Regions from separate parts of the Homo sapiens genome. Here all the other regions are reported to be linked to region 1. Evidence: microRNA targets listed by miRTarBase, many of them from high-throughput screens and not tested one by one. Region 1 holds a microRNA gene; each other region holds the end of a gene's coding sequence.
Evidence for each region. The annotated mature microRNA hsa-miR-6720-5p reads UUCCAGCCCUGGUAGGCGCCGCG and lies in region 1 at 3,208-3,230, opposite strand. An mRNA with a match to its seed (bases 2 to 7 or 8) in the 3' UTR can be bound and repressed. Matches are read on the target gene's strand: a 7mer-m8 pairs with bases 2 to 8, a 7mer-A1 pairs with bases 2 to 7 and ends in A, and an 8mer does both.

Region 2: the mRNA of PRMT7 is a reported target of hsa-miR-6720-5p. The part of its 3' UTR that is shown has no 7-base or 8-base seed match.
Region 3: the mRNA of TMEM170A is a reported target of hsa-miR-6720-5p. Seed matches in the 3' UTR shown: 7mer-m8 at 4,682-4,688, 7mer-m8 at 2,963-2,969 and 7mer-m8 at 2,595-2,601.

What each region holds. Positions count from the first base shown.
Region 1 is chr6:1,387,152-1,394,339 of GRCh38, forward strand. It overlaps MIR6720 (microRNA 6720), which reads right to left and starts at 3,260; the gene lies at 3,163-3,260. FOXF2 (forkhead box F2) reads left to right here and starts at 2,425. Exons shown (of 2, transcript NM_001452.2): 1 at 2,425-3,967. The coding sequence starts at 2,797. FOXF2-DT (FOXF2 divergent transcript) reads right to left here and starts at 2,310. Exons shown (of 3, transcript NR_187218.1): 1 at 1,868-2,310. RefSeq lists an enhancer at 3,607-4,472.
Region 2 is chr16:68,356,180-68,363,367 of GRCh38, reverse strand. It overlaps PRMT7 (protein arginine methyltransferase 7), which reads right to left. Exons shown (of 19, transcript NM_019023.5): 18 at 6,571-6,667; 19 at 4,784-6,314. The coding sequence ends at 6,144. It overlaps SMPD3 (sphingomyelin phosphodiesterase 3), which reads left to right. Exons shown (of 9, transcript NM_018667.4): 8 at 1,609-1,765; 9 at 2,061-5,041. The coding sequence ends at 2,162. Among named protein-coding and RNA genes, the nearest start is that of PRMT7, 49 kb to the right of the region's middle. RefSeq lists enhancers at 1-800, 6,617-6,776.
Region 3 is chr16:75,441,461-75,448,648 of GRCh38, forward strand. TMEM170A (transmembrane protein 170A) reads right to left here. Exons shown (of 3, transcript NM_145254.3): 3 at 1,594-6,228. The coding sequence ends at 6,098. Among named protein-coding and RNA genes, the nearest start is that of CFDP1, 12 kb to the left of the region's middle.

The DNA of each region.
Region 1 (7,188 bases):
GGATCTGTATTCCCTGAGATCCAAATACATATAATTTTCAGGCACAGAGAATCAGAGAGAGTCCATGGCTAAGTGACAATGAGTACTGAATGTTTCCAAAGCCCGTTGCCCACCGCCCCCACCTACAAATGAGATAATTGTCCTTTTCCCCCACAAGCTTCTCCCCTGGGCTCTTTCCATTTAAAGCACACACACACACACACACACACACACACACACACTGAACTCTATGTCAGTAGAGCTCCTTTAAGATCCTATCTGTCCTCCCCACTCCAGCTTCTATTTTATGAAAATAATTATATTTTAGGCACTTAGAGCATTGGTTTAGTGAACACATTATATTTACTTTCATATTTAGTTATGTATTTTTAAGTTATTCCACACAAAATGACAAATGAGGGCAAGAGAAAAAAATACCATGAAATATATGGGGACGCACCCCCCAAAAACGCTCAGCAGTCAGTCAGAAATTCTTAGAAAGTGGAAACAACTGCGAAGCCCTACCCCAACCCAATCAAAACATCCCACCCGGAAAAGAGCGACTTGTTTCTTTTTTCTATTGGAAATGAGTGGTAAACTGAGTTCGGTTTGGCGGTGTTTTCTTAGCTGACTCTCGGCTACAATCAAGCCATTTTCGGACACATTCCCATGTAGGTACCAGGGGTGCTCTGGAGGAAGCTGTCGACGCCTGTTCAGCTAATTTAGGTTTTCTTTGTCTAATTACTGTGGAGCTTAGGGAGAAGGAGCCGGCTCAGGGCAGTAAACTGACACTCGGTCTCTGTGTGTGGTATCCAGGCAGGGTTTGATGGAAAAAGCCTGCTTCCACTCAACCTCAGGTCACTGTCTGGGGCCAGCCCCGGCCCACCCCCCTCCCACATACCCCTCCCCTCCCCACCCGCCCTCTCTGCATCTACAGCCCCACCAGCACACTCAGCCAGGAGCAGTCCCCCGGCACTCCAGGGGCACACAGGGCTCCTGCCGCCCCAGGGGGCCTGCCTAGGCTGTGCGGCTGTGAAGGCTCTTTGCCTGGTGTCTTCCTCCTGATTACTGCACAACCTCCCTTTCTCCTGCCTCCTGCAACTCCCCAGGCTCCCCAGCAGGCACACCCGTGCACCTCGGTCCTTTCAGCCTAGACGCAGCGGGGTGCCCAGCTCTACCTCCTGTTTGGTCCGCTGGTCTGCAGCACCTTCTTTCTGGGCCTCCCCCTTCAGCCCTTGGGAGGCCCCGCCAGCTCCGGCCTCCTGCTCTCCTCCTCCCTCTCCCAGCTCCTATCCCTGGTCGGACTACATTTCCCTGCACGTGTAATCCAATAACTAACTGTCGGGTCTCATTGGAAGTGATTGCTCCCGAGGGCACATCTCTCTCAGAGCCTGACTCTTACTTAGGGAGGAATTAGCCACAACTGGGGAGAAGTGTTCTCGGACAGGAGTTAGCTGAGACCTGGCACAGTTTTGGGTGGGCAATGTTAAGACGGAGGATGTAAACCTAGTGACAGCTGCACACCCCTTCAGGACTGACTATAAATATAGCCATCTCGCTTATCTCAGGGTCTTTCTTTTTCTTTCTCTTTCTTTCTTTTCTTCCTTCCTTCCTTTTTCTTTTGCACTTTTTTCTTACAGAACACTAACTGGGGTGCGGGGGTGGGGGGAAGAAGTGGAAGCAAATGCAACCCTAAGTCCCATGAGATCCAGGTTTCCAGAGTCTTTGAAACTTGGCCTAGGTTTCTCAGTGTAAATCCCTCTGCTCAAAGTTCCGAAAACGTCCACGATCGCCAGCGGCCCGCAACCCTGCGGCGGCCCCCAGTCGCCCTAACAATTGTCGGGGAGCCTGCAGGCCCTGCCAGAAAGAGAGAGGATTGGCACGTTACCTTTGGGCGTCTGGCACCCCGGCGTGTGGCTGAGGGCGGCAAAGTCTAAACGAAGTTGACAGATGGAGTCAGTATCGGCCCTGGGGAGGGCGGCCAGGGAGGCTCCGAGCAGCCGCACCCGCAGCAGCACCACTCGGCCCGGCGGGCCAGGAGGAGGAAGGGGGCGCGGAGGGGCGGGGCTGGGTCCTGGGATGGGACGCGGGGCTTGCTGCGGGGGGCAAACAGAAAGAATATTTCATGAAGTCAGAGGTGGTCGAGTTTTGCGAGGGGTGGGGGTCGTCCCCCTGGCAGAACCGGAGTGAGTCTGTGATCCCTCAATTGGAAAGAGGGTGAGTGAGGGAAAGGGGAGGAGGCCGCGAGAGGAATGAAGAGCGAGGAGACCCTGGAGAGCGGGGAGCGAGATAAGAGAGGGAGGCGGCCGCCAGGTCGGGAGGGGGAGGAGTGAGCGCGGCGGCGCGGAGCGAGGAGGGGGCAGGGCGGGGTGGGGGGGGAGGGAGGGAGGGAGGGAGCGAGGAGGGCGGCCGGGGAGGGCGAGGGAGGGAGGAAGTCCGAGAGACAGAGCGAGGAGCGCTCCTGAAGGGAGACGTCGGGCTCGTCCCCGGGGTCCAGGCCGCGGTCCCACTCGCGGGCGCAGTCGCCCGGCGCCGGCCGCTCGGCCCCGCGGCCTGGGAGGCCGTTGCGCAAGGCAGGGCCCGCGGCTCGGGGAGGGATGCGCCGGGCGTTGCCTCCCGCCCGCCGCCGCCGCCGCCGCCAGAAGCCCCAGAGGAGCTGAGGGAGGCGACGCCGAAGCGCTGGCCCGGAGTGGCCACGGCTGCAGCCCGGGCGGCGGGCTAGGGCGCTCGCAGGGCTTCTGGGCCGACCCCGCTCCGGCGCCTCCGCTTCCCGCCCGGGGCCCGCCCTCGCGGCCCGGCCTCGCTCCCGGGTCCCAGATGACCACCGAGGGCGGGCCGCCGCCGGCCCCGCTCCGCCGCGCGTGCAGCCCGGTCCCCGGCGCGCTCCAGGCCGCCCTGATGAGCCCGCCGCCCGCCGCCGCCGCCGCCGCCGCCGCCGCCCCGGAGACCACCTCCTCCTCCTCGTCGTCGTCCTCCGCCTCCTGCGCCTCGTCCTCGTCCTCCTCCAATTCGGCCAGCGCCCCCTCGGCTGCCTGCAAGAGCGCGGGCGGCGGCGGCGCGGGCGCCGGGAGCGGGGGCGCCAAGAAGGCGAGCTCGGGGCTGCGGCGGCCCGAGAAGCCGCCCTACTCGTACATCGCGCTCATCGTCATGGCCATCCAGAGCTCGCCCAGCAAGCGCCTGACGCTCAGCGAGATCTACCAGTTCCTGCAGGCGCGCTTCCCCTTCTTCCGCGGCGCCTACCAGGGCTGGAAGAACTCGGTGCGCCACAATCTCTCGCTCAACGAGTGCTTCATCAAGCTGCCTAAGGGCCTCGGGCGGCCCGGCAAGGGCCACTACTGGACCATCGACCCGGCCAGCGAGTTCATGTTCGAGGAGGGCTCGTTCCGCCGCCGGCCGCGCGGCTTCAGGCGGAAGTGCCAGGCGCTCAAGCCCATGTACCACCGCGTGGTGAGCGGCTTGGGCTTCGGGGCGTCGCTGCTGCCCCAGGGCTTCGACTTCCAGGCGCCCCCGTCGGCGCCGCTCGGCTGCCACAGCCAGGGCGGCTACGGCGGCCTCGACATGATGCCCGCGGGCTACGACGCCGGCGCGGGCGCCCCCAGCCACGCGCACCCTCACCACCACCACCACCACCACGTCCCGCACATGTCGCCCAACCCGGGTTCCACCTACATGGCCAGCTGCCCGGTGCCCGCGGGACCCGGGGGCGTCGGTGCGGCCGGGGGCGGCGGCGGCGGCGACTACGGGCCGGACAGCAGCAGCAGCCCGGTACCCTCGTCCCCGGCCATGGCGAGCGCCATCGAATGCCACTCGCCCTACACGAGCCCTGCGGCGCACTGGAGCTCGCCTGGCGCCTCGCCTTACCTCAAGCAGCCGCCTGCCCTGACGCCCAGCAGCAACCCCGCCGCCTCGGCAGGCCTGCACTCCAGCATGTCCTCCTACTCGCTGGAGCAGAGCTACTTGCACCAGAACGCTCGCGAGGACCTCTCAGGTAACGCAGCACGCTCCAGCCCAGCCAGCTGGGCGCACCGCTTCTAGGCCTCCAGGGCTGGCGGCCACTGCCACTCCCACAAACAGGGACCCCGAAGCTAGGAGGTCTGAGGGCACTGGGAAAAGCAGATGCTGGGGAAAGCCGGCATCTTATTCGTGGGAGCAGGGATCAGGGTCTTACTGTCCTCCCAGTATCCCTGGCCAGCAGCCGAAGCTTCAGAATTGTCTGGCTGCTGTGAGCGTGGTGTAAAGTCCCCTGCCTTCCTGGGCTCTTTGGGGATCCCTGTGCAGGAGACTGCAGGTCTCCCGTTCAGAGTCTCACTTAGCTTGGAGAGAAGGCATCTGGCCTTTGGGGAACTTGGTCAGGAAGCTGTGTCTAGTTCCTTTTGTCCCTTTTTTTCCTTGCGTTCATTTTGCTGTACTTCTGTCCCGAAGTAAATGTCAGAATCAGATATGTTCTGTATGTTGGGGTGTCTGCAGCGAGATGTTTGCAGCTGGGCAAGTGTTAAGAGGAGGGGGTGGGAGGGACAGAGCTGGATCCCAGGATCTTTCACTAAAGGGACATTTGCCAGTGGAGGGGGTCACCAAACTGTTGGAGACTCCTCCCCTTCCCTGCCTCCCCCCCCGCCCAACAATGGACCCACATTGATGATACAGGTCCTGGGTGGCAGGACCTGAAGGACCCTGCTAGGACTCCCCTGAGAAATGCGCCTGCCCTGTGGATGCCACTTGTAGTGTGGCTGGTTTACATTGTTCTGGTTGCAGATTATGAAAAATTATTGACTTGCTGAAGGCGGTGAAAGGTGGGAGGGGACGGTAGGGATGGAAGAGGGAATTTGAATATTTGACCAGGTTAATGTGAAGAACAGAGATAAACCCTTACATTAACCCCTCGCTCGGAGCACCTAGGGCTGCAGATTAAAATCCCATGGGCCTGCCAGTCAAAGGCAAGGCCCCAAGCTACTCTCTCACACTGGCCTCCCACAGCAATGAGACAGTGGCTTGGAGGGTGATGCATGCTTTATGTGTTCCTGAGCCGGTGTGCAGCGGGAGCACCCGGGGAGAAGGAAAGCCCAGAAATGGGCAAAAGATGTTGGTTCCCTGGACGGTGAAATTTCCCAAATAGGCCTTTTAAATGTGGGTCTCAGAGGTTAACCAAACAAAGACAGTCTCGGCAGGACCACACCGGAGAGGATTTTAGCCTGACTTAACCCACTGAGAACAGAGTCTTGTTCAATTTTATGGGAATTTCAACAAGTAACCAATACAGGCGGCCTTCCCCTCTTATTTTTGTATTCCCTTGGACCGGCTGTCAATCACACACACACACACACACACACACACACACACACACACACACCCCTCGGTGCACTGGCCCCTTCCCTTCCCCGCCTGCCTGCTCCTCTCCCAGCCTGCCAGCTGCCCTCCCTGCTCCCCTTCTTCTCCTCTCCCGGCAGATCCACTCAACTTGAACCCGGACTCTGAGGCTTAGCAGCCTTGGAGAAACCGTACTCTAGGAAGAAAAAAAAGCACACAGGAAAGAGACTCCTGACCCTTCCTCAAGGCTGCTCTCGCCCCACCTCATAACACTGGGCGCAGGCACAAGCTCCCAAAACTTCGGAATCTGGATACATTACTGTCTTGGAGGGGGTGAAAACTGCCCAGCAAAGCAAGCCGGCCTCTGTGCCCCTACCCAGCGGCCTCCCGCGGCCGGCCTTCCCTGGGAGCCTCGCAGAACCCCCGACCGAGTCTGGGAACGCCCGGGGGAGACAATAGCTCGGGCCTGACGCCCGACAGGGACCCTCTGCCCTTCCTTCCTCGCTGTCTTGCTCCCGTCCCTATAGGATACCCACCCGGCCCTGTTGCCATCTCCCTGGAGCGCCAGCGGTGGAGGCTTCGGAGGAGCCGGCCGGATGCACCGGGACCCCGCGGGGCCTAGTTGGGAGCGCGCCGCCCACTGAGGCCTGGGGGCCCGGCGAGGCGCGGGGGTGGCCAAGGCAGTCTCCCCGGCACACAGATCAGCACATGTCTACGCGCACACACCCAGCACGACCCTCCCTCCCCCAGCACACCCCAAGGGCCGCGCCCTCCGCTCCTGGGCCTGGTGGCCATGGTCCATGTGCCCCTGCCGGCGCAGGGGCTGCCCTGGAGTTCTCCATTAAGCCCTGCGAGCACTTCAGGAAGGAGCTCGGGCTTCTGTCATCCCGCTCAGCACATCAAAGCGCCGACGGCCGCCTTCGTGGGCAGGTGTGAGCGCTCGCCCTCTCTCCTCCCGAGCCTGCTATTTTGTGGTCCAGGACTTGCCATCAGAACTTGCTTTAACGCGACGAGGGAACTCACCTGTGTGCAGAGCGCCGCGCACACATCGGGGCTCGCGGGACAGGGCAGCTGCGTTAGCGCAGCGCCGGGTGTGTTCGGGTAGGTGTTGCGGGCAAGGAAGTAGGCAGCGGCCCCTGAGCAGCCGCCTCGCTCCGGCATTGCGGGGACACGGCGGGGCTGAGGCCACGAGAGCAGGGCCCGAGCCCGGCGGGCCGTGGTTACGGTTTTCTTGCACTGAAAAACTGAATCCGGCCCGAAGCGACGTGCACTTTATGGTCCCCACACCACTCGGTTAACTAAGAAAAGACCCGGGCGAATGGACCTAACGCAGCCCGGTGCCGAGAGGGCCCGGTCCAGCAGCCTCTGGGGCCCAGTGCGCAGGGCACTGCGGGCCGATTGCGCCCCGGGGCCAGGAGGCGCCGAGAAAGCAAAAGCAAAAGCCGGCGGCGGGTGGAGGTCAAGCGGCCCGGTGCAGGCCGGGGACCGGGGAGCCGCCCCGGGAGAGCAGGGTCCAGGCCTTCTCTGTCCCCCTCCAGCCTGGGGCTACCTCAGGGACTCCTCGCGCTGCCAGATGCTTCGGACCAAAGGGCATTTCTCTGCGCCCTGAAGTCCCGGCTTCTCTAGAGGAAGTCTAAGACGTTCGGGACCCACGAAGATGCCTGCGGAGGGGCAGGAGAAGAGGCGTGCTTTTCTGCCCCATCCCTTCATCTTGCGATTGGGTTGTTTTCTATCGTCCCCTTTGGCACAGGGAGTCCTCTGCGCTCGCTGCTGTGACCGGCCCAGTTAGTTGGGAAACAAGGCTCAGAAAGAAGGCCGCAGTGGTGTTTCTGGGGTAGGGTGCTTGGCCCTCCCTGAAGCCAGGGCTCAGGGCAGCACAGGCCAGGAGCTCTGCCGGGAGAGACC
Region 2 (7,188 bases), not on the chromosome of region 1:
CCTCATCTCACCTTTGAGAGCTTTTGAGAGCTGGGAGCTGGGCCAGGCAGGTAGACCTCACGCCCTCACGCCCAGGGGTACTGGCCTTGCTAAATCTCTAGGGGTATTTCCCAAACCTGTTTTCAGGAGCTAGCCCTGCCCCGAGCCCCTGCCTGCTGGGTACAGGAAAGGGCCTGGAATTTCCCCCGGGCCAGGCCACAGGTCGACCCCCATGAAAGAGCTGCTGGGTACGGCGCCTGCTGAAGGCAGCCTGGCAGCTTGCAGCACCAATCAGGCAAATACAGACACCAGCTGCAATAACACAGCCGACCATTTTCAAAGTAGAGACAGTTCCATCCCAGCCAAAATTCATTCTTGAGCCCAGTAAGATGTCCATAAAGAACACATCTGAGAGGCCAACAGCAGAACCAATTTATAATTCACAGCCCGAGACTGCAGTCACAGCGATGGTTCCTTGCAGCTAATTTGAGCCAATTAATTAGATTATAGACTAAATTTGAAACATCATCCTATGCTGAGAAAATTCTTTTTATGAGATGATGATTTAAAAATGACTACCAGTAGCTCTCAGATCATTGATGCTGGAATTAATTATCAAGGGCAAAGGACAGTGATGGATTCCATTTCTGAGCTGTAACAATGTCCTGAATGTCATTAGTGTATTTATCTTAAGGCTGATGAAAACCTTGTGGAAGCCCATGTTTGCAGGCCCTGCCTCGCCGGGTGCCCCTTTTGCATCCGTCCAGGCACTCACAGACCTGGCGGCCTTTGCAGGGTCTCTCACCACTGCACTTGCCATCCCAGGCCCTGGCCCCAGCCTGCCCTCTGCAATGGGGGCTCCCAGGAGGGGGTCCTAAGCCTCTGGCCCAGTGGTGCTGAGGCCCCAGGGGACAGGCTGGCAGGAAGCAGACGGGCATACTGCTTGTCTCAGGGCAACAGTGCCAGAAAGGGATTCCAGATGTCACATCCCCCTGCTCCAGCGCCCTGCCCTCCCTGTGGATCCCCTAGCACCATCATGGGTTTCCTCACTCAGAAGCGGGATGACAGCCTGTTCCCTGAAGCGTCTTGGGGCCCACAGCAACCATTCTTGTTTCAGAGGAGGAAACAGAGGCTTGGAGGCTTGGTAACATAAGCAGAGTCACACAGCCACGTAGGGACAGCCCCATTTGAGACTCCTCAGAGGTGCTCTCCTGGCTCCCTCAGCTCCTGTCAACCTGGGAACAGTCACAAGGGTCCCCGAGACTCATGGCAAAGACCAAGCTCCTCAAAACAGGCCCCTGTTGGCTCAGGGCAGAAGCCCATTCTGGGGAACGGGTGGGATCAGTTCTGTCCGAGTTCAGAAAGGGAAAGTGAGTGCTGGCCAGGCTGGGGCGGACAGAACACTTCGACGGGCTCCGGAGCCCAGATTCAGCCAGGAACCCACAGGCAACTCGGCCTACCCCCAGCTGAGGCCCTTTTTGGACCCGCAGGGGAGAGATCTTAAACCCAGCGCTTTGGTCCCACCCACCCGCTCCCACACTGGGAGGAGACCATGGCTCCACACACAGCCCCTGCCAGGCCCACAGGGGCGGGCATGGGGGCCCACCTGCCTCCTGCATGTGTGGACAGGGTCCTGGAGAGTGAGGAGGGCCGCAGGGAGTACCTGGCGTTTCCCACCAGCAAGAGCTCGGGCCAGAAGGGGCGGAAGGAGCTGCTGAAGGGCAACGGCCGGCGCATCGACTACATGCTGCATGCAGAGGAGGGGCTGTGCCCAGACTGGAAGGCCGTGAGTCAGGAGGGCCCAGCAGCCAGGGCCATGCAAAGAGAGAGCAGGGCCCGGGCCCTGCAGCTCTCGACAGCCGCTCCCTGAAACCCCACGCCCCAGGCCACTCTTACAATGATACCCATCACTCCCTCAGACCCTTAGGGCCCCAGGTCCTCCAGGCCCCATCCCTCTGACTGCAGGAAGGTCCCAGCCCACCCCAGCCCCGGGGCCTCACTTTGGGGATCCCCAGGCCGCTCCCTGCAAGATGCCCTTGGAATCTGACCAGGCTGTTTCTCCCCTCTCCCACTCACCCCAGGAGGTGGAAGAATTCAGTTTTATCACCCAGCTGTCCGGCCTGACGGACCACCTGCCAGTAGCCATGCGACTGATGGTGTCTTCGGGGGAGGAGGAGGCATAGACCGTCCGGAGCAGCGGGGCCTCTGCCAGCCCTTGCAGCTGCAGCCCATCCCTGGGCCATGTCCCCTCCATCGAGTGCCCGGTGCTTGGGGGAGGAGGGCAGGGACAGGGAGGGAGCCACAGTCAGTGCCCGGGAACCTGGAAGCTGCGCTGCTCTGCGCCTCTGGGCCTCACTGTGGACAGAGGAGTCAGGCCCGCCCCAGGAGCCTCCAGCTGCCTAACCAGTGCCATTCTTTCACAACACGATTTTCTACAAATCTACAGCACAACCGAGTTTGTAACCCGTGGGTTAGTATGAGGACCGGGTTCGTGTACTCTCTGTATCTCCTCTTAAGCTTCGTCCAGGGTTCTTTATTTTTGTCTGCTGCCAATGTCGTCTCGCATGCCTGCACCCTCGCATGCACGCTGCCCGCATGCCACGTGCCACGCTGTAGCCACAGACCCCTTGCTCGGGCCTCACCCAAGGCCAAACTCCAAACACAATCAGAACCAGCCAAAGAAGCACTTCCTGGGCACGGCCACCAGCTCTCCCGCCTCCAGTGTGGGCCGGCTCCTGCAGGGTCCGAGGGCTGCATCTCTACCAGCCAGCCCAGGGCTCTTCCCAGGGTCTCGCATTCAAGGGCAATTACATTTTAAAAAGAAAAACAGAAAAAGGTTAATCACAAAACCAACCCTCACTTCACAGGGTCTGTAAGTCACTCATAGAACTTTGCTCTTCCCGAGACAGGGTCCCTTCCCCAGCTCAGGCACAACAGAGTCTGGCAGGCTCTGGCACCCTGGGCCTCCTCCGGGAGCCTCCCATCTGGGCAGTGGAGCCATAAACGGGGATCCGAGAAGAGAGTATCCACTTTTTTTTTTACAGGAAGAAGGGACTCACAGCATAAACGGGGGTGGGGGGGATCCTGATTTTGAAAATAATCTATTTGTAGCTTCTCTTCTATCAAAACCAACACATCCTCTTCTTTCTGCCAATCCTCTCCCCCACGGGACACCTCTCTGGTTCGGGACCAATCCCTCCCTGGGGACGTGCCCCACCTGCGTGCCGGCTGAGCTCAGGAACCCCTGCCTGCCCCCCGGGTGGGGCTGCGGCTCTGGCCTCCCAGGCCCATCCTCAACAGCTACCCCAGCCAACACCAAGGCCACAAGGGGACCCCGGCCTAGGAGGCAGGAAGCCAAGGTGCAGAGAGCAGCCTGGCCCTCACCAGTGCGCAAGCTGGGGCAGCAAGGCTGACAGTTGCTGCATGCCCAGGGCAGGGTGTGGTACTGGCACCCAAGTTCAGCATGGCAGAGCTGGCCAACAGCTTGTGGTCCCCGATCTGCCTCCAGCCCCAAGATGCCTACAGCCCCCAGGCCCCTTCGGCAGCACTGCCTCTGCCCACCTGCCTTTAAGAGACTCCAGGGCTGCTCCTGTCATGCAGCGAAGGTTTTGTCTGTTTCAAAGTTCGAGACTCAACTTGAGGGACTGTTTTTGACAATCCCCGCTGACCTCCGCTCCTCGTGGCGCCCTGGCCCTACACCCAGCCTGGCCCAGGGCCGGCTTTGCCTGGTGAGGCTGGAGGGAGCACCAGGACCTGCTGTCTGCTGTCAGCCCCTCCTGGTGCTGGTGCCCTGATGCTGTGCCTTGTCACCCATTGAGCTGCAAGAGGGACCAAGAGGGGGCCACGCAGCCAGCCAGATGCCTGGCCCTGTGCTGGGGCAGACAACGCTGCAGAGCCCAGGGAGCCTGGCGCTAGGACGTGCGTCCTTGTGACACTGGCCTGTCTGAACTCACCTGGCCTGGGAAGCACCGTCTGCCCGGGCCCAAGCCCTGCCCCTCCAGAGTCCAGAGCCAGGAAGGGGCTGCTGAGGGCGAGCATCCTGCTGGGCTCTCTGCCCGGCCCACCCCTCCAAGGGGCTGGCCTGTGAGCCTTGACTGGGATTCATGATGTGGAGGCCCCCAACTTCCAGAAGCAGCTGGTACTCTGCTCACACAAGCGACTGGGCCGGCCGGCCCTGGACCCCTAGACCCCGAGCCGCCTGCCGACTGCCTGCACAGGGAGAGCAGTTGAGGCCCGGGCAGGGCCCCCACACCAGACCCCAACATAGCTTCCCCACCCAGGCACCCCCTCCCGGGGCAGCAGGCGTGGGAGTCAGGGCTGCATGCTCCTCCCCTCCCACCTCACAGGCGGCCTTAGGCAAGTCATTTTCTGTCATCACAAGGTCGCCTCTGCCTAGTCAGGTCCTGGGGTCCAGAGTAAGGATGTGCGGCCCCCAGGCCCCCGCACACCTCCCTCAGCACCAAGACCGGGACCCCCCCACCCACGTGTCTCATTGTGGCTGCCTATGGACTCCCGGGCCTTGTGTGCAGGCCAGGCCCTTCCACTGATTTTTTAAAGTGAACCATTGCTGGATCTCAGATTCTGTGGCATCTAAGGCCTAGCAGGGGTGGGCACACGGGTCACCCGAGGCCCATACCAAGACTCTGTTCCTGCCCTAGGCCCAGTCTCAAAGGAAGCCACAAGGCGCGGGGGCCACTGAGGAAGGAAATGTTCATTTTCATTTGTCCAAAACCACCTTAAGTTTTAAGTATATTAATCTTGATGCTTTTTAACTATTGCTTTTTAACTTGCTGAGATTTAGAAATACTGTTATAAAAACTTTTTTAATTTCTGTATTTTTTTCTGTATTGTATCTTCATGGGACATTAGGGGTTTTCTATGGTAAGCACACCTATGGTTTTGGTAAAAACATTATCAAATATATATCCAGACGGTTCTTCCCTAGAAGAAAAACAAGTCTTTACACCTGATAAAATATTTTGCGAAGAGAGGTGTTCTTTTTCCTTACTGGTGCTGAAAGGAAGGATGGATAACGAGGAGAAAATAAAACTGTGAGGCTCAAGGCTGGTGTTCTCCACTTATTTCAGCGACAAGCTGGGGCCAGGCCTCAGGGGCACGCCTGGGGGCAGGGGAGGGAGTTCCTGCCCCCAACTGCAGGACAGGCACTGCCCAAGTCTGCCCTGAATCCGAGGACACCGGAACTCTGCTCATACAGGCGGCTCGGCTGGCCTGGCACAAGCCTCACCTTCTAAGCTGCGAGCCAGAGGCCACTGGGTTCTCTCACGTGGTGTCTGCTGTTACCTCTGAGAGCTGGGACATAACCAAAGGGGGGTTAGTGTGTGAGAGAAGCAAGGCCACGGCACCTACTGACCTTCCTGGTGAAGCGGCGCTGGGCAGGGGCTGCTCCCTGCCATACCCCACCTGCAGGAGGGGCTTTCCAATCTGAGGGAGGTGCAGGGAACAGGGCTGCCTCCCAGCTCCCCTGACAGCCACTTTCCTGGGCCTGCATCTCAGGAACTGCTCTGGGACAGCTGCCTTGTGTCCAGTCTCAGGTCCTGGCAGGCCACCAGCTGGTGCAGCACTGAGGCCAGACACCTATGGATGTGGCTTGAAGTTACCTGTCAGGTGAAAGGGCCAGAACCCAGGCCTCTCAGCCCGGGCCCAGCCAGGGTCTTCAAGCCCCAGAGACCCAGCCACAACTCAGCATCTCCACCCTCCTAGCAGAAGCCAGAAGAGCAGGGACCCGGAGATCCTCGAGAGTGAGACAGACAGGACAGGCTCCCGCCACGGGGACTGCTCGCCAAGGGCGGCGTGGACAACCCCACCGGCCAGCCCCACAAGCTCCCTGTGCTTCCACTCCCTTCCCAGCTGGGGAGAGATGTCTCTGTGTTGGAGCATTCTCAGCACCTCAGAAGCACAAGCAGGGGGGTCTTCCCAGCCCCTCCAGGGCTCCAAATTCAGTCACCCTCTCATGCTTCCTGCCACAGCTGGAGCCAGAGGCCAGCAGTGCAAAGATGCAACAAGATGCAACACGGCGCAGTCTTTCCCATCCCTGAGGCCGAGCAGCTCCCAGAGAGGAGAGGAGGGCCTTCAGCCTTCCCCGCTAGAAAGCCATGAGCCACTCAGAACCCCAGCCCTCAGGCCACTTTATTGCTCAAGAGTGGTCAGTCTGGGGTATCTGCATGCCTGAACTCCATGATGATGTCGCCTGTGTCGGGGTGAAACTCCACTGCATAGCTGACAGTCCGTGGGCCACCCAGCAGTGCTCTGGGATCTGGGGCAGGGCTGAAGAAGTAGACGGCCTGCTTGCAGTGGGGGTTCCAGCAGCAGCCCCCCTGTAGGAAGAAGAGCAGGAAGATGGTGAGGGCTCCCTGGCACCTGAGCCTCCTTCCTAGCCAGCCTCCAGCCCAGGCAGCTCGCAGCAGAGAGAAGCTGCTCAGGGGCCAGATGGCCCAGGACCACTGAGGGGTCATCATCTGGCCCGAAGAACTTGTGACAGAAACACCCAGAGCATGGGGGCAGGGAGGCCTCCCCAGGCGGCGCCTGCTCTCAGGGTCTGCACGCACACTGGGCCCGGTGCGCAGGCACTACCTCGGGGTCTGCAGGCTCCAGGAGGCCAGTGCTGAGCGTGCACTCCGGGGTCAGGTGGTACTCCATCCATAGCACCGCTGCGTGGCTCTGCCCGGGCCTGTCAAGGAGAGGGGGGCCCAGCAGAAGTAGTCACACAAGAGGCAGCGGGGGAACAGCTGCAGCTCCTGCGGCTTTCCAGAAACCTGTGGTCTTCCCCACTTCCTTCCTGCCCTGCCGGGAGTTCCTAGTGCTGCAGTTACATAAACGTTCCTCAGAAAAACCCCAGCCAGAAGAGCCGCAGCCAAGCCCCCACCTGAGCCAACCCGAGCCCTGCAGCCGGGCCACACATGGGGCAGGGCCGGTGTGGCTGCAGGGTCTGGGGGAGCTTGAGGCACAGCCTGGCACTGAAGGCCGGAAGGCCCCTCTGATGCCCCAGACAGCAACCCTGGGAGCTCAGGTGATGGCGCCCGCCCTGCCTGGCTGCCTGCCCCGAGTTGGGAGGTGCTTCCAGGAGAAGTCACTCCTCGGGCGAGGGTGGGGTGAGGGCCGGAGCAGGACAGGGCTGCCCGTCCCTGGACGCAAGCAGCACTTGCTGACCCTGACCTGCTTCAGCTCCCAGGAGGGTTCAGGAAAATGGTG
Region 3 (7,188 bases), not on the chromosome of region 1:
ACTCCTGACCTCAGGTGATCTGCCCGCCTCGGGCTCCCGAAGTGCTGGGATTACAGGCATGAGCCACTGCACCCGGCCTAAGCACACTTTTCTTATGGGAGAGTAATAGAAAAATAGATGTAAAATTTGAACCCAGTATTTGGAAGTTGACCATTCTTGGCGTCATTTACCTTGGACAGCATAAATGGTGTCCTACAGCCACAAATCAGGATGTACCCTTTTGCCCTATCACTGGGGGTGAGTCTGGGGAACAGGAGCCACTGCGTTCTCTGGCAGACACTCCCCAGCACCCATTTCTCCTAGCACTCCATGTGATTGTTCAGATTTACAACTAGAGTTCCTGACCGCTTTAAGGGTAATCAGAGTGGGAATTACTTTCTAATAGTTGAGATGGAAAAAAAATTGGTGGTGAGCAGGCCAAATCCAGCTTAAAATCATGTATTGTAATGACTTAAAAGTGTTTTACGGCAAGGCGCACAATTACAGGTGGCTCGCGGCTGTAATTCCAGCACTTTGGGAAGCCAAGGTGGGCGGACCATTTGAGGTCAGGAGTTCGAGACCATCCTGGCCAACACCGTGAAACCTCGTCTCTACTAAAAATACAAAAATTAGCCAGGTTTGGGGGCGCACATCTGTAATCCCAGCTACTTGGGAGGCTGAGGCAGGAGAATCACTTGAACTTGGGAGGTGAAGATTGCAGTGAGCCAAGATCGCGCCACTATACTCCAGCCTGAGCAACAGAGCGAGACTGTGTCTCTAAATAAATAAATAAATAATAAAAGTGTTTTACGCAAGTTTAAATTAGTTGCTAACACTTAAAAATGGAGAGATTTCAAACAGTAACCTAGATTTCCAGCTTCTCTTGAAAATAAGTATCTGGCAAGATTGGGTTAATCATCGAATAAAGCAGAAACAGGCTGGAGCCAAGCAATAGCTGACTCCTTCGGACAGGGCTCTCCACTTGGCCACAGCACAAATCCCTCCAACTCCCTAAAGATTCCTGGTTCACTGTTCTGTTTTCTCGGTAATAATTTAGGGTGTCCTCCCTGCCGATCTCAGCACCTTTACTCCCAGATACATATACAGTCTTGGGGTCTTCTGTCTGAACTGTGTACGTATCTTTCCGGGGTGCTAGAAACATTCTGTCTCTTGATCTATTAGTCACATTAAGTATATATATATATATATATATATATATGTAAAATTCATTAAGCTATACATTTTAAGATTTGTACACTTTACTGCATGTTAAACCTCAACTTTAGAAAATTAGAAGGAATGAATGGGCAATCTCCTGCCAGACATTCTCTGTATGTGTCTGCAATGGCTGGAACTGCAGCAATCTTGTGACCATGAGGTAAACTACCCAACTTAGTCCCATTTGTTAAAAATGGCAGAACAGTGAGATTTATGATGTCACCAAGGGTATTAAATTAACCAAACACGACGAAGCTTCTCTTCATGTGGACTTACTATTAAAATAATACATTTTCACACACTGTATCAATACTCACCTATTCCTGCACAGAATCAAACAAAAGTTTCTTGATGGGAATATATGGCCCAGCAAGTAGAGTTAATAAGAATTTCAAGTTCACATGTTAAGTACGGTTTAATCACAACTTTGAACAAGAATTTTATCATAAATTAGTAAGAAGTAGAACATAAAAAAAGTTACACATGCTAGATATTAAGTTATTTAAAAAATGAAAACTGAAGTCAATTTTATTACAAAAGATTAAACTCATTAGCCACCAAAAAGAAATATAATTCCAACTCAGAATTGAAAGTAATTTTTTATTGATAAACATTTACACTAGAATTAGAAATGTCAGTAGAAAAATAAAATTTAAATAATTTTCTATTGTACAAAGATTTGATCATTTTGACTGTAGCAGTTAGTGAAATAACATAATATAAAAAGTTAAGCTGATCTGAGTCACAACCAGCCTTATAGAGTGCACAAAAAAGAAATGCAAGTACACGACATTTCTGCATATGGTCTGCTAATGGCACCGATGCTTCACATTCCAGGAAATGGTTACTTAGGGAAGGTTGATATGTGCTGCAGCATAATAGGAACTTAATTCAAACCAGAGCAACCAGAAAGGATACTGGAGGCAAAAGCCAAAATACAATTTAAAATCTTAAAAAAAATAAGGAACGGTTTAAAGGTAATTAATGAACTTTTCCTCACCTAGTGTAAACATTTCATAAGAAGTAATATTTTGTGGTCACAAAAAAAGCACAGATACCTCTTTTAGAATATTCATGATGCTCTTGTGTATGAACTTAAGTTTTCATGAAATGCTTTCACCTCAAAACCCCGTATTCAAGAATCAAGAAGGCCAAGCATGATGGCTCATGTCTATAGTCCCATCACGTTGGGAGGCCGAGGCGGGTGGATCACTTGAAGTCAGGAGTTTGAGACCAGCCTGTCCAACATAATCAAACCCTGTCTCTACTAAAAATACAAAAATTAGCTGGGCCTTGTGGCGGGTGCCAGTAATCCTAGCTACTCAGCGGCCAAGGCAGGACAATCACTTGAACCCAGGAAACGGAGGCTGCAGTGAGCTGAGACCATGCCACTGCACTCCAGCCTTGGAGACAGAGCAAGACTCCATTTCAAAAAAAAAAGAAAAAAAAATCAAGAAATCAGCTTTTATGGTCAGGAGGCTGCCTCCCTCCCTCTCTTGCATTTCTTTTTTTTTAAAAAACAAAGCAGAGGCCGGGTGTGGTGGCTCATGCCTGTAATCCCAGCACTTTGGGAGGTGGAGGCGGGTCAGGAGATTGAGACCATCCTGGCTAACACGGTGAAACCCCGTCTCTACTAAAAATACAAAAAATTAGCTGGGCATGGTGGTGGACGTCCGTAGTCCCAGCTACTCGGGAGGCTGAGGCAGGAGAATGGCGTGAACCCGGGAGGCAGAGCTTGCAGTGAGCCGAGATCATGCCACTGCACTCCAGCCTGGGCGACAGAGCAAGACTCCGTCTCAAAACAAAAAAACCAAAAAACCAAAGCACAGCTGGGGGAGGATATTTCTAAGAAATCAGTTTTTGGCAAAAATTCTCAAAACTATATAAGGTAAAATGTTCAACACAATTGCCAATATTCTTCCATCTGAGTGACCACCCCCAAATAATTCTATATTTGAGACATAAAAAAGAAAATCAAAGCTATTCCTTATGATTCAAATAGTCTTTCCCTGAAAACATTTCAAGCTACACCGCTCAAGCTATTTAAAATCTATATATATATATAGATTTATTCACTGGAGAATACTTCACCTACTGGGATGGATGAAACACTCAGTAATTTGAAGATACCTTTTATACGTTTAGTTTTTTAAAAGAGTAGATAACCAAAATATATCAAACAAGAAACAGAAACAAATACACCTTTCAAAATGCCCTAATTTTAAGTCTTAGCTCCAGTGAAAAATATCTAACATTTTAATCATGTATCAGTACTTCAAAAGTTACTGTTTAAGAGGAGGGGCCCACTAACTACTGGTCTATATGTTTAGTGTATGAAATTACATCCAAAGAATGCTTTAGGCAAGAACTCCTTCAAAAGACATTTTTCAGTAAGAGGCATCCTTCAGTAGAGATGATGGCAATCATTTCCCATAAGAAAAGTTACCAATTCCCCAGATTTCTTAAACTGAAGGGATACTTTTGAAAATCACAGCTCTTTAAACAAAAAACTAGAATTTTTACAATTTGCCTGTGAGAAAGATTTGAGCTTCTTGTTAGGGAATTTGTAAGAATATTTGGCTGCATTACAACTCTACTTATAAGTTTCTGCCCGTGTATATGTCACTATAGTTTTGATAAGTTAATTACCAAAATTAGTAATATTATTTTAAGACAGGGTCTTGCCCTGTGGCCTAAGCTGGAGTTCAGTGGCGTGGTCTCGGCTCACAGCAGCCTGAACCTCCCAGGCACAAGTGATCCTCCCACTTTAGCCTCTTGGGTAGCTGAGGCCACGCCCAGCTAATTTTTTTTTATTTTGTAGTAGAGACAAGGTCTCACTATGTTGCCCAGGCCAGTCTTGAACTCTTGGGCTCAAGCAATCCTCCCACATCGACCTCCCAAAGTGCTGGGATTATAGGTGTGAGCCACTGCGCCCAGCCATAAGTGGTCTAATTAGTCAAAAGAATATGTCCAGTTTTTGTGATCTCTTTGTAATTCTTTTCTATGAGTTTCCCTGGCAAATTGGTCCTCCTGACTTTTTTCTTTTTTTTTTTTTTCCAAATTGGGCAGACTCCAGAATCACAGTAGATTCAGAGACTCTCCTCCTGGCTATTTTTAATCAGAAGCCAGAGTGTGTATTGCTTTAAATGGAATAGATACGTTCATGTGTATATGACCTCATGGGCTGTTAAGCCTTAATCTCACAATGAAAACTTTCCTTTAAAGATGTCAGATTTATGGCCAGGCGCGGTGGCTCACGCCTGTAATCCCAGCACTTTGGGAGGCCGAGGCGGGTGGATCACAAGGTCAGGAGTTCAAGACCAGCCTGGGCAAGATGGTGAAACCTATCTCTACTAAAAATACAAAAATTAGCCGGGCACGGTGGCAGGTGCCTGTAATCCCAGCTACTCAGGAAACTGAGGCAGGAGAATCGCTTGAACCCGGGTGGCAGAGGTTGGAGTGAGCTGAGATTGCACCACTGCACTCCAGCCTGGGCAACACAGTGAGGCTCCGTCTCATTTAAAAGAAAAAAAAAAAAAAAAGTCAGATTTAATCACCAGAAACTATTTTGCAGATAACCACCACCACTACCACCACACTGATTGTATTCCATACAAAACAGTTTAGGTGGAAAGGATCACATTAAATACTTAATTTCTGCGATTCTTTCCCTCTCAAAGAGTCACAGTTTTCAGGCCTTTTAATGAAAAAGAAAGTTAGGCAGTAGAATAAAAATTTAAATAGCTAAAATTAAGTTTTAAAAAAACTCTTGATATTTAAATCTCTTTAAAGATATAAATTCTTTTGAATAAAAATGTAAAGGGGAGAGTGGGTACATATCTGAACATTAAACTTTAGGCACTTTCTGGGAGTTGATACCCAATACTGTAAAAGTGGGCTGAAGAGTTACCACTAGGTAAACACATTAAGCTAAAAAATCAATAACCACTAACTCTAGTTTCAGATGCACTTCTATAGTTTCTCAAGGGTCATTAGTATACCAAAGTCACTAAGAAAAACTATGACAGAATGCCTAAAGTATCTTATGTGTGCCTCAATGTCCAAACAAATCTGGCTTAAAATTTCCAACTCAAGCCATTTAATAGGGTATGTATGTTTCCAATTAAATGAAATAAAATTAAGAGAATTAAAAGTGATAGGGAAAGGTGGTACAGAAAATCTAAAAAGTCTAAATTAGCTAGCTTATTTTGATAAAACATACAAAATAACAAATTCACATCTCTTAAAATATCTTAATCAGAAGTCAAGACAGTTGTCCAGAAAATGTCACATTATTCATTGTTATCTACTTTTTATTTATAAACAGTGGAACCAAAGCCACTACTTGAGTTATACTTAAATTTTTTTTCCTGCTTTATTTCACCAAATTTGTTTTCAAAACTATACTCAACCAAAACCTATTTGGCATTTATTGTCACTAAGATGTAGCAAAGAAAAGAGTTTGCCAAATTTTAATCAAGATTAGATAAGATTTTAATACAACATACTCTGCTCATTTGAAATAAACCAGTATCTTCCACGGTTTCTTCAAAATATGCGACATCTCACAGAATACTGTAAATTTCAGTGCAAAGGATGCCACCCCAGAGACACTGTTGACTTGGCTTGGGTAAAGGTACACATGAAAACTGCTTAAATCAAATATCTACAAAAAAGAAAGCCAAAAGACTTGTTTTGGTTGAGAACAATAGGAGTCCACATAAGTCTTCAATTCTAGGAGCTTCAAAATGAAGAAAAGGCTGAGATGTGTTGTCCTTCATGTTCCTGTTCATCCAAGTTGCTTCCCTTTGAAGAACTAAGAAAACACTACACTCCATAATGTATTCTTTTGGAGGATTCCATAAAGTTTAAGTTCAACATCTCAGCATAAGGATGTATGCTATAGAGTAGCTAAAATCCGTAAAAAGGAGACCACCAAGACGCAAAATGTCTGTCCAGTGCCCAGTGTGAGGGCTTCAAATGGTATCATTTCCTTCCCTGCTGCTCGGTAAACTCCAGCAATAGCTGCACCTGATTTAAAATGCAAGAATGTTAAACAAAAACAAAAAACGAAGGTTAACAAACTCACGAAAATACAACATTTAAAATACTACTGCGAGTAGAATGTTCCAGATTTTATACTGAAATTTAAATCTTACAGAAATGTTAGGTTTTCCCTATTCTTTCTGTGGACTACTCTACACTTTGAGTATTCATTGCATGGCTTGCAAGATCACTTTTAGATGCTGACTCCTTAAAACCCAGAGTCTCCTAGATTTATTGAATAAAATAATCTGGAAGAAATAATCAAAATCACAAAGATAGCAATTCCCACATGACCAGATTATGAACTCAAAAATATCTGTATTCCCCTACCAGTTACCCCATGCCTAGCCTTCAACAGGGACCTAATACATTTTTGGTAACAAATGAAAAAGGATCTTTTGAGTTAGACTAAGCAAGAAATGTTTCAGGCCACAGGGAATCCCCACTCCACCTTCTATCACACTCATAGTTCCCTTCAAGAAATGGACGGAGGAGGGACTAGAGGGGTGAAAAGGGAAGACAGGAGGACTCTAAGCCATAAAGTTGTTATTCATTCACAGGGCATGAGAGGAGAGATACTCAGGGATTCCTTTGTCTCCCAAGTCATTGATTGTTTTTATTACGCTAGTCACTATAATTTCCTGCAAATTGGAAAAACAAAACGAAAACCCCTGTATCTATGCAGATACCCATTTGAGTTACTATACGAGTTCAGCATTATACCAAGGAAGTGTACCAAGAAAGTTAACATTTCATTCGTTTGAAAAGAATAGATCCGGCCGGGCACGGTGGCTCACGCCTGTAATCCCAGCACTTTGGGAGGCCGAGATGGGTGGATCATCTGAGCTCAGGAGTTTGAGACCAGCCTGGGCAACATGGTGAAACCCCATCTCTACTAAAAATACAAAAAATCAGCCAAGTGTGGTGGCACGTGCCTGTAATCCC